Linked DNA regions of Homo sapiens: region 2 is linked to region 1. Evidence: fine-mapped expression QTL. A gene starts in region 1. The other region holds a variant in brackets. All regions are shown on one strand. Distances are from middle to middle.

The links. PIP is the estimated chance that this variant, and not a neighbour inherited with it, causes the effect.
Region 2: its variant is fine-mapped to the expression of CYTIP in whole blood (TOPMed, PIP 0.96). The same link has a PIP of 0.9 or more in NK cells.

The regions. Positions count from the first base shown.
Region 1 is chr2:157,441,875-157,447,267 of GRCh38, forward strand. CYTIP (cytohesin 1 interacting protein) reads right to left here and starts at 2,215. Exons shown (of 8, transcript NM_004288.5): 1 at 1,973-2,215. The coding sequence starts at 2,146. RefSeq lists enhancers at 1,876-1,975, 2,016-2,065.
Region 2 is chr2:157,413,022-157,418,414 of GRCh38, forward strand. CYTIP (cytohesin 1 interacting protein) reads right to left here. Exons shown (of 8, transcript NM_004288.5): 8 at 1,598-3,122. The coding sequence ends at 2,656. Among named protein-coding and RNA genes, the nearest start is that of CYTIP, 28 kb to the right of the region's middle. RefSeq lists an enhancer at 681-730. The variant C/T (reference allele first, on the strand shown) is at 1,979.

The DNA.
Region 1 (5,393 bases):
CCACTACATTTCTACAATAAGGTTCCTGAAATCCTCTACTTCTCAAACACGTTCAGTGGCCCTCGTGCCGGCTTTTTCAGGGGAAGTTGTCCAAGTGTTCTGTAAAGCAGCCCAGCGCTGAGATCTCCTCTCACCTCCTACACACTAACCAGGTTCTCCTGACACACTTAATATTGTGTTGTTACACAAAAAAGTCCTCCAGGCACCAGGATCTATGCCTCAGCTTCAATTTCTCCCTTGCTCTGGAATACCCTTCAATATCTGGAATACCCTTCAATATCTCGAATATCTATTTCCAAGGCTATATTTACAGATGTTTCACTTCGATGAGAGTATTCATGTTGTTTTACTTTGCAGAAAACCCATTCTTTCTGCTTACTGAATTGTAAACAGTATATGGGTAGGAAACATTCCCTTCTCGTCTTTTTACCTCCTACACTTAGCATGATGTCTGTCTCCTTGTAGGTGCTCAGAAACCATCTGTTGCATTGAATTGCATGGGCTAGAGAGTAGATCAAATGAGTAAGGTTGCAGGTATGGAGGACATAGAGGGTGGAAAGTTCCCACCCTGATTGAAAAAGTACCCACAGTCTCCAGCAAAAAAAAAAAAAAAAATCATAGCCTAATCAAGTGAACCATAGTTGGTGTGATAGTGTCATGGCAAATATAAAGAAAATCTGACTGCTTTATATCTGAAAACTGAAAAAAGATGTCAGCATTTCTCATGTTGCTTTATCTTCAGACAGGTTGTAGATTGATAAAATGTTCATCATTACATTAAACTTTGTATCATAAAAGCACTTTAGATTGAGAACAATCAATAATCCAAATCATGGAAAATTGTGCCCTTATCTTCACTCCGAAAAATACCAAGGAATCAGCTATTATACATCACTGAAAAAAGATCATGTCTCTCCCACTATGCCATACCTCTCTAATCCTGAATTTAGAAGGCTTACGAGAAGCACATGATTGTACATGCAAGACTTAAGCGCAAAAATTCTTGCTCTAGGGCAATTCTAAATATTTTCTGTAGAAATGCTACATCGAAATTCAAATATGTACCTGGGGATTTAGAGCAAGTTGTTTAAAAAAAATCCTGAAGAGGTATTATGGTTAAAAAAAAATTTTTACATGTTAGAAATTGAAGAACGAAAAAATCAAAATAAATTCAGTTAGACATAGATTTTTCCAAATGAGTTTTCATCCCTAGAGACAAACTTTGCAATAAAAATATTAAAATGGCATAATCTAGCATTTAATAAACACACACTGAATGCCAGTCACTGTGTTAGGCACTGCACAGTTCCTTATTTAACCAACATAAGAACCCAATAAGGGTGGTTCTATTATTAACTCCATTTTAGAAAAAACAAAACTGAAGCTTAGAGAGGCAAGTGGCTTGCTCAAGATCCCACAGACACTAAGTGGTGAGCTGATATTCAATCTGGCACTCATCTATCCAAAAAAAAAAAATCTTACTTTCCAATAGCCTGAGGTATGTGCCAGCAACCCAGAGCTGAAGATAATTAGTCAACAAAATTTGTCCTCAGAAAAAGTATTTCTTATTTGATTATGAACTGAAATGACCATCAAGGACTGCAAGTAAGGATGGAAGGGAAAGAATCAGTGGAGACACAATGGGGAAAAGAGAATTAATTCTCATACTGGTTGTATCTATATAAACCATCTTCAAGTTTTTTATGCTTAATGATGTTTATTTTACCTGAGCACTTCTTCAAATAAGAAAAACAATCTTAATTTTTGCCTTGAAAAAAAAGTTTGATTGTGGTCTCAAATCTTTGGACTGGTTCACCTAGCTCCCTGAGCATCTCACCTCCTTCACCCATAATAATCAGCCAGTAATTCCAAAGCCTCTAAAATATCACCATTAGTATGAAGTCAGACAAACATATCACTCTGCCCTCAAGAGAATGTGAACACTCTAAAGGGTACAAAATAGCAATCATACCTGCTTTCGTCCCCGAGGCAGAGTAGCCACCGTGTCTGCTAGCATTTGAATCCTTCTATTATCGTCCATCGTAAGGCTGCCGGTGAGTGTGGAGTAAGAGCTATACGCTGGCCCAGCGCAGAAGTCCGCCAAATTGCCATTGCTGCTGTGTTGCAGGAGCCTTTGTAAAGACATTGTGAATAAAGATCACTCCAGCTAGCACATGGTTGAGTGGCCTTGCAGGATGGGGGAAGCTAAAAGTACAACTGTGACAAGTAATCAAAAGTAGCAAAGCAGAAAGAGCCCATGTGACCTCTGTGGTTTGAGGAACTTGTTACACAAACCCTATCTTGCTATTCACTCCCATTTCTCAAAGCTTTTTTTCTTTAAGCTCCTGAGAGAACCTGGAGCTAATTTTTACAATTTAAAGAAAAATCAACTTATTTTTTCACCTCAAACAGCCAGAATTCTTACGCTTTTATGTTCTGTGGCAAGTTGCATTCACACCACCATTTGCCATTTTTTTCTTTAGAGAAGAAAGAAAAATGTCCCCAAGTGCTACCATTTGTTTCCCATCCATTCTCTTACTTAACATTAGCAATGCAATGCAGAAGTCAGCACACGAGGACATTCAGTTCTTGTGAATATGGGCAAGAATTACAGGTGCCGGTCATAATGTTCTCTCTCGAAGTCCTTGTAATACTGTACTTTCCCTGAAGTATACCCTAGATCATTAATGTTCATCAAAAAGACATTATATCTGCCACTGAGGTTGTAACCATTCAGCATTCTTCTGGTTGTCCTTTTACTACTTTGTCCTTACAAAAATTACCCATGATCTTTACAAAGTACAATGGGAAGGGAAAGCCAGCACATTTAGGGCACAATGTTGCCATTTCTTAGACGAGACTTTGCGGCAGCATCAGCAAGTGGTCCCAGGGGAGGAAAGGAGTGGGCAGGAAGGTAACAGGCAAACCAAGGTGGCACCAAGAACATTGCCTGTTGGTCCCTGCATGTGCATATGGGTCAAGGGCACCATCACCAAGTACTCAAGATCACAGATGCTTTTTTTTTTTTTCCTTTGGCTGAGGTTGGGGGCAGGTAGTTTTGAGAGAACTGGTTTCAGTGGAGGAGTAGGGGAGGCAAGTAAAAGGAAGAATCGAAACAAAAGTCAAAAAGAGAAGTTTTATATGGCACAAAAAGTCAAATGTGCTTTTTAAAATCTCTGAAGATCAATACTAGCATTTGAAAGAGTTAGCAAATCTTTGAACTAAAATGAAATGTGTGTGTACTGGAAGTGAAGATGAATTCAACTCAAGTAGAAATTGCCAAATATAAATAGTAAAATCTGAATTAATAGTGCTTCAAAAGTTGAAGCCAATTATAGATTTTAAAAACTCTATCACAGCATGACTCATTATACTGGAATTGAATTTTGACATGGACAAAGTGATATCACCACAAACATATAACGGTCTAAATCAGGAATTAAAAACACATACGTTTTCAGAAGCCAGGTAAGTAACATAAATGTGTAAGGCAAAAGGGAGTGGTAAATACCTTGGCAACTAAAGAATACATCAATTATAAAGATATTCACGTAAAATCTATATTTATAGATATGTACAGATATGTATACAGGTATATGTGGGGTGTGTGTGTGTGTGTGTGTGTGTGTGTGTGTGTATTAGGAAGACAGAGAGAGAGATTGATTTTAAAAACATTTTCAGGCTAAGAGGCACATAAATTAAATCATCACTATTAATGGATGACAGCAGTCCACTGTACCCTAGGAATCTGATAAAGTTAGGTAAATATTTTTAATTTTTATTCTTAATATTTTAAAATGCCAAATGGAAATTATACATTTGCTTAATATAAGGCCACCCACTCAGGCCAACTGACTCACCCATTTTTATAAATGACTACTAAAATTGTACCAATTCATTGTAATACTGACCTTAAGCTGATGTAAATCATAGATCATCATTCAATTAAGAAACTGGAAAATACTTATTACTTAACTCATGAAATGTGTTAAGTAAAATTTTTCAAATAATGGGATACCTGGATACAAAACAAGGGTCAAAAGTACCTCTGACATCCAGCCAGCCCATATCAATGTGGTCACACCTGTTAATTACAAATTTTTGACCTAGTCTATTTTTATTGGTCATTTCCCTGTTCTGTCAGTGCCTGTGTCATGCCAGTCACTAATATCATGATCAAAAGTGTCCCTTGTGATAAAGGGTGGAGAAACAGTAATCTTTTAAGGGGAATGTGACTTCCAAACAACAAATCCTTGACTTACAAAGGTGTTCTACTGTTTAGAACATCTCTTTTCTTTTAGGATTTACCTTAGGAAAATTATAATAGACCAGACTCTCTTCCCCTTCAGCCTCCCATTTATTTTAGAGAGGTGATTCTGGAAATGAATTGGATCAAGCTACCTAGGTACTCAAAAGATTTCAGGAGTATCTCACTGTTCACAAAAAAATAAAATAAAATAAAAATTATTTTATATTATCTGATTTCATTCTCTGAAATGTCATATCATTTTTTTAGATTCTTCTTTTGAGACTTAATATATTCTAGTTAGGGCAATAGTTAATTGTATACAAATCTGTTTCTCTGCTAATGTCCAATTTCCTTGAAAGCAAGGAACATCTTTTATCTTTAAATGTATACTTTATGTCCTACATACAAAAATTGTTCAATAAATGTTAATAAAAAGAGAAAGGTAGATATTAAACAAAATGATTAAACAATAGTGTTCTGTGGTATTAATAAGGAAAAAAATTAATTTGGTAGGAAATGTATGTACTACAAGCCCATATTCCAAAGTGCTACAATTTTCACTAAGGGGTGATCTGAGAGATGAGGACAGAGTCTCTTAAAAATACGTCTCATCTGCCTTTATGCTCTAAAAGCTAATATTTGTTATGTGGGGCAAAGCTCTTATTTGGAACATTTTGTTCATAAATATGCAAATACCCTTGGAAGGAATTAATCTTTAGTACAAATGAGATGAACACTGAGGGCCTACAACATGGAGATTTGGTAGAGTCAGGTGAGAGGAATATACCTAAAGCACGGAACAGAGAAAGAAAGGTGGAAAGGTTTGCAAGACAAACTGAGCCAACCTTACAATCATCCATGAAAATCTTAGGCAGCTGTAAGAGGGTTGACAACAGGGTTCCAGTGTCACACTACTTAGATTCAAGTCCTAGCTCTGCTGCTTTAAAGACTATGGACTGAGTTGTATCCCCCCAAAATTCATACATTAAAGCCCTGAGCTTCAATGTGTCTGTATTTAGAGATAGGGCCTATAAGGAGGTTAATGAATCATTTAAGGTTAAACGAAGTCATAAGGGTAAGGCTCAGATCTGATAAGATTAGTGCCCTCATAGGAAGAGGTGGCAGAGGACTCTCTCTCCACCAT
Region 2 (5,393 bases), 29 kb before region 1:
TAAATGCTATCTGTATCTTAAGATATAAAATTATTACAAGGTAGAAAGTCATAAATAAAAGTTCACTTCCAAAAATATATTACTAATCTGTTTGTCATGGTTGTGTTCTTCAGCCACATGATAAAGTAATTCCCAATCTACTTGATTCAAATTTGGTTTATCAAATGCCCTTCTAGAAAAATGCATTTTCATAACAGGTTGTCAATTAATGGAATTCACCAGTAATACATATTTGAGAACTTTCAAGTTAAAAAAACACTTTTCAATTTTTTCCCTAGTAAATTATATCAGAATGAATCACTATGCACCAGAAGTTTCTTCTAAAGCCTGACTGAAGTCATAAATTAGTCTGAAAGTTATACTGTGAGAAATTTACCCACATTTCTACTAAACAAAAGCTAATTTTCTTACAGCTTGTGAAATATAGAACATGACATACCCTTCCTTCCTGTACTTTGGTTAACCAGTACTTTTTTCTTTATTCTCAGAACATACCTCGACTCTAATTCTTACCGCAAACTAAAGTGATGCTTGCTCCGTCCCTTCCCTGCCCCTTTTTTGCATTTGAGGTCTACTGTCATACAGCAGTGTTACACTTCTGTATTAAAATCACAAGAAAAGCAAATGATCTATGGTCTGCTTTCCCGTATGACCTATGTCATTCTGTGTAGTTCTCAAAGCATTTTTTCACCTTGTAGAAGATTTCAAAGTCATCTTTCCTCAAATAAATGTGGTGTTTCCTTCCCCTGGACTTTGTGAAATAGGATAACAAGAAATGCTGAATTCATATAAGTAGACCTTTAACAGGATGATTCTAGACTATGATGAGAAATAAGCAATACCAGTTGAATCATAACTGGTTTGCAAGCTCTTGTTGAAAATAAATGCACTGCTAATCATGTAGTTATTAAAGAACCTATGTCTGAAACTTGTATATGAGGAACAGAGAAATGTTTGTTTTCCTATTTACCCAAAGAAATGCTCTTATCTGTGCAGCATCTATAATTGTACATTTTAAGTATTCCTGTTGGGTGGAATAAAAAGTACTGTGATGATCACTAAACAGAACCAAAAGAGTAAAAGATATCTGGAATAGACTAGAGCAAGGAAGAACTGGCTTCCAATTTTAGCCCTGCCACTGACTAGCCTTGTGACCCTGAGAACATTTCCAAATTCCTGACTTGTTATCTGTATGCCTAACACCTACTATATAGTAATTGTGAGGATCATACGTAAAGTGTCTTTAGCCAACTAGGTACTCAGTAAATGGTAGACAGTATTGCTATCATTTCTGTGAAAGGTGTGACACCCTGCCTTTCATATGAGTGACTGTCATGCACAGGCCACTGGATGTTTCTCAGTTCAAAGAGTTAATAGAAGGCAAGTCCCAACTAGAAATCTTTTCATACTTTATCATTTCTTTCTCATCTTAGATGCTTCCTTACCCTACCCTCTTTTATCTCAAAATAACTCATTTCTTAAGCAGAAGTTTAATTAAATTTAGCAGCTCTACTTAAATTGAAGTGTTTCTATTTCTCCCAAACACACACACACACGCACAGAGAGAGAGAGAGAGAGAGAGAGAGAGAGAGAGAACTTAAAATCAGCAGACTATTTATTACATAGTCCAGATTGTCTACTCTAGAATATAGGTTATGAATAGCTGTGCCACCAGAACAGAGAATTCATAGACTTCAATGGATATTAAATAAAACATGGAGTAATTGAAAGGCTAGAAGTAATGTGATACTAACATAACCAATAGGCAAAAGACTGCTGAGGTGATAGCTATTTAGAATATAAGATATAAAGTGAGAAGTAATATGAAAAAAACTACAGGAGGGAAGTCCTTTTCCCAACCCTCAGTTTTGGATGTTAGACATTTGTAGAAAAAAAATTACAAAGCTGTAGGATTCGGAGAGTTCTAGACTTGCCATTAATGTTCAGGCAGAACAAAAGCTGAATTGGGCAAAAAACA[C/T]GACATCCCCACCCATTTTGTTTAGACTGTCTATAAAAATGACTTTATTATGATCTTTGCAGCACCCATCTCAGACCACATCTTTCCATGGTTCTCATGAACCTTAACCCCTCCTATTAAATCTTATACTTCCCGCTTTATTGTCACTATAGATGTGAGAAACAGCTGATGGTCATCTTTGTTTACAAGCCATTACAGGTTTGAACAAATTCAAAATTGCCTATTATTAAGCCTCCGCAGGAGCTACTGGGCATAAGCAAACCTAAGATTTTATAACCCAGCAATTATCCTATAGAAAATAGTCCAGATTATTATATTCTGCCACACCTTTATTCATACTTGACTCCAAAAAGTTCTCAATTATTCACAGGGATAATCTAGAAAATAAATATTAGTTTTGCTTTCAAAGACATTACTGGAATGAGCAGGAACCTGCATCTTTGTTATATTAATTAACTTATTATTTAGTTTTCCTGTCTGCTTAGAAATTGGCTGTTTAGGTTGAAAAATGATTTAAGAAGCATAAACTATAACACAACAATTTAAATAAAGGTCACTATTGCTGTGAAATGGGATGTCAGTTTTGCAATTCTTCTGCACTTTCCCACCAAGCTGGGATCTGGGTGAGTCTAGAGATATTTGTGAAATAAGCTAATTTGAAAGGACACCACAATCCGTCAAAAGCGACTTTCTTCCTCTTCCACAGCACGATGAAGGCCAGGGATAAATTTCAAGAGTTGCTTTCGGACACTTCCCTTTCTGCTCTTCCGGGGCAGGGTCCCAAACATGCTTGATAAGTTGCCCTCCCACAAGGGAGACATGGATCCGCTGCTGGTGTTACTGATGCTCCGGTTCCTCCTTGAAGATGACCTCCTCAGAAAATCATCCCCCTCCTTGGGGATAAAGCACTCATCATCTGTACTCGTCTGCCGACTGAAGGCACCCCTGCTGGAGTCCTCAGACACACACGTCTGGTAGCCATCTTCACTGTCCATCGTCATGGAGCTCAGCCAGCTCTTACAGCTGCTCTCACTGGATAATCGATTCCGGTCCACAAGGGCTGGGCCTGGCCCAGGCAGGGGTCCAAACAAAGACAATTCATCCAAGTCCATGTTTTCCAAACTGGGGCAATTAGCTGCATCACCTAGAGCACAAAGTCTACTGTGAAATGGATCTGTTCATTACTCCCTACAAATAAATACACTACATCAAAACTTCTCTTTGAATGACACGAGAAAGAGTAAGGGTGAAAAATACTTTTCACTGAGCTTTGGCGTGCTTGAATAAGTAACTGTTTATGAGACCATTTGATAAACCTTATAGTAGGGTTTCCTGAACTATTGTTCATAGACCAAGGTTCCATGGTCACAAAAATTATAATATTAGAATAAATTTAAACAAGATGTTTCATATGAGAACAGTTCAGCCCAATTGACAGTCTACCAGTGTGGCATCTGAACCTCCAAAATGATCATTTCTTAAATTTAAATAACCCTGAAACCTTTTATTAAAATTCTCACAGAAATGGGGTTCCATAGAATACACTTGGGGAAATACTATCATGATTTTCTCCACTTAGTTTCTCTGATTCTTAGGTACTGTCTTTTAAAAATAATTCTAAAATTATTATAAAACCATTTGAAGTAAATAGAAAACAGTTATGGAACAGGTAATTCAAAAGTGTTTCTTAGAGAAAGGATTTGTGAAATCAAATGTATCTTCCAACCTCAATATTCCCAGTTTCGTTTTGGAATACTTAAATTCTCTGGAATGATACTGTACCCAGAAATCATCCTTGTCCTCAAGTAAGTAATAATTTATTTGAAGAAATTGAATTTTATCTGCTTGGCTAAATTTTTTTCATTGATCCTTAACAACGTACATCTGGCTCTTCAAACTCTAATGTTAATCACATACCAATATGACCCTCCCTGCTTCCACACTAACTGAGTTGGTTGGTATCTTGTGTGTGTGTGTGTGTGAGAGAGAGAGAGAGAGAGAGAGAGAACTTGTAATACCAGCCTTGGAAAAACGTAATCAGTAAGTGACTATGCTTCAGAAAAAATAATAGAATACTGTACACTCTAAAATGGTTTTATTTTGTACTGATTATCTCCACTGCTGCTGTCTTTTGTCCTCGGTTGACAATATAAAAAGAAACTGTTCTTTCAGATGATTTGCAAGGTTGAGTACAGCCAGCCCCATGGTGACTAGTCATAATGCTTTCCTTTTTGCTAATACAACCTACTTCATTTCATCTTGCAATAAGTGATGAATTTCTTTTGATTGGAGAGCAATTGCCTTATAGAATCACATGCCCTGGATGTTTACTATACATCTAGAAAAAGCAGAACTCCTTCAATTGCTCAAAAAATATGTACAACAATGACTTTATGAGGATCCTGACCTAACAATGTTGTCTATACAAGGCTGTTTCTATAGAACAGCAAGAATTTATATTCACTGGGCCATTCAGGATGCTCCAGAAGTGGAAATGAGGCTAAAAAGCCCTCATGTCTAAAGAAAGCAAGGAGGTGGCTGAATTTACAAGGCCATAAAGAAGTTTTTGTATTAAATATTTCTGCCTCTCTAACAAACTTCACTACCCAAAAGAACTATTATGAATTTTTTAAAAATATTAAATGAAGACATAAAAAAGAGAAGTAACTTGTACATAAGTTTCAAACACTTCAATTTAAAAAAAAAAAAACAGAAGTTCATACCAGAACTCTAAGCCATAAATTAGTGACTAGTTAAGGATTAAATTGTTATCTTTTTTGGTAAACAAATTGATTATCACTTTTAACAGATATTCTAGGTTACAGACTTAAGCTTGGTGCTATTTAAAGAAGAGATAAGCTATATTTCACACCCACGTAGTGGTTTCAGTGAATTATTTGTACACAAAAGTTCATTCCTTTGGTTACATCTATCATACAACAAATAGCGAATTAACACATTTTAAACTCAACCCTTCCCTTAAAAATGCACTCAATGGCAAGAGCTATGCATTTACTGTTGTATTCATCTTACGCATTTATGTCTTTGTCTTGGGGGCCATGAAAAAGAATTTCTCTGCATAAATGCAACTTATGCAATTTAAACAAAAGACAGGAGCTCTACCCAATAAGTGTGCAACCATTCCAGCTTTAATAGCTTCTAAAAACTATACAGCCCCTTAGCCGTGATTGTTTTCAGAAATGTAATTCATTCACTGAAGTAGAAGGAAAGTTAGGCAATCTTCCCCAATGATTTTCTAAAATCTCCAGGTGCCTGTTTTCGAGCATGTGCATCTGTGTGCATGTGCATCTGCGTCATGATACGCAGTAGTGGATCTGACTTGCCTTACCCCTCCTCCAAATACAGCCATTCCAAAGCTCATGCCAAAGAAACACAGACCCATTTCCTTGACCAG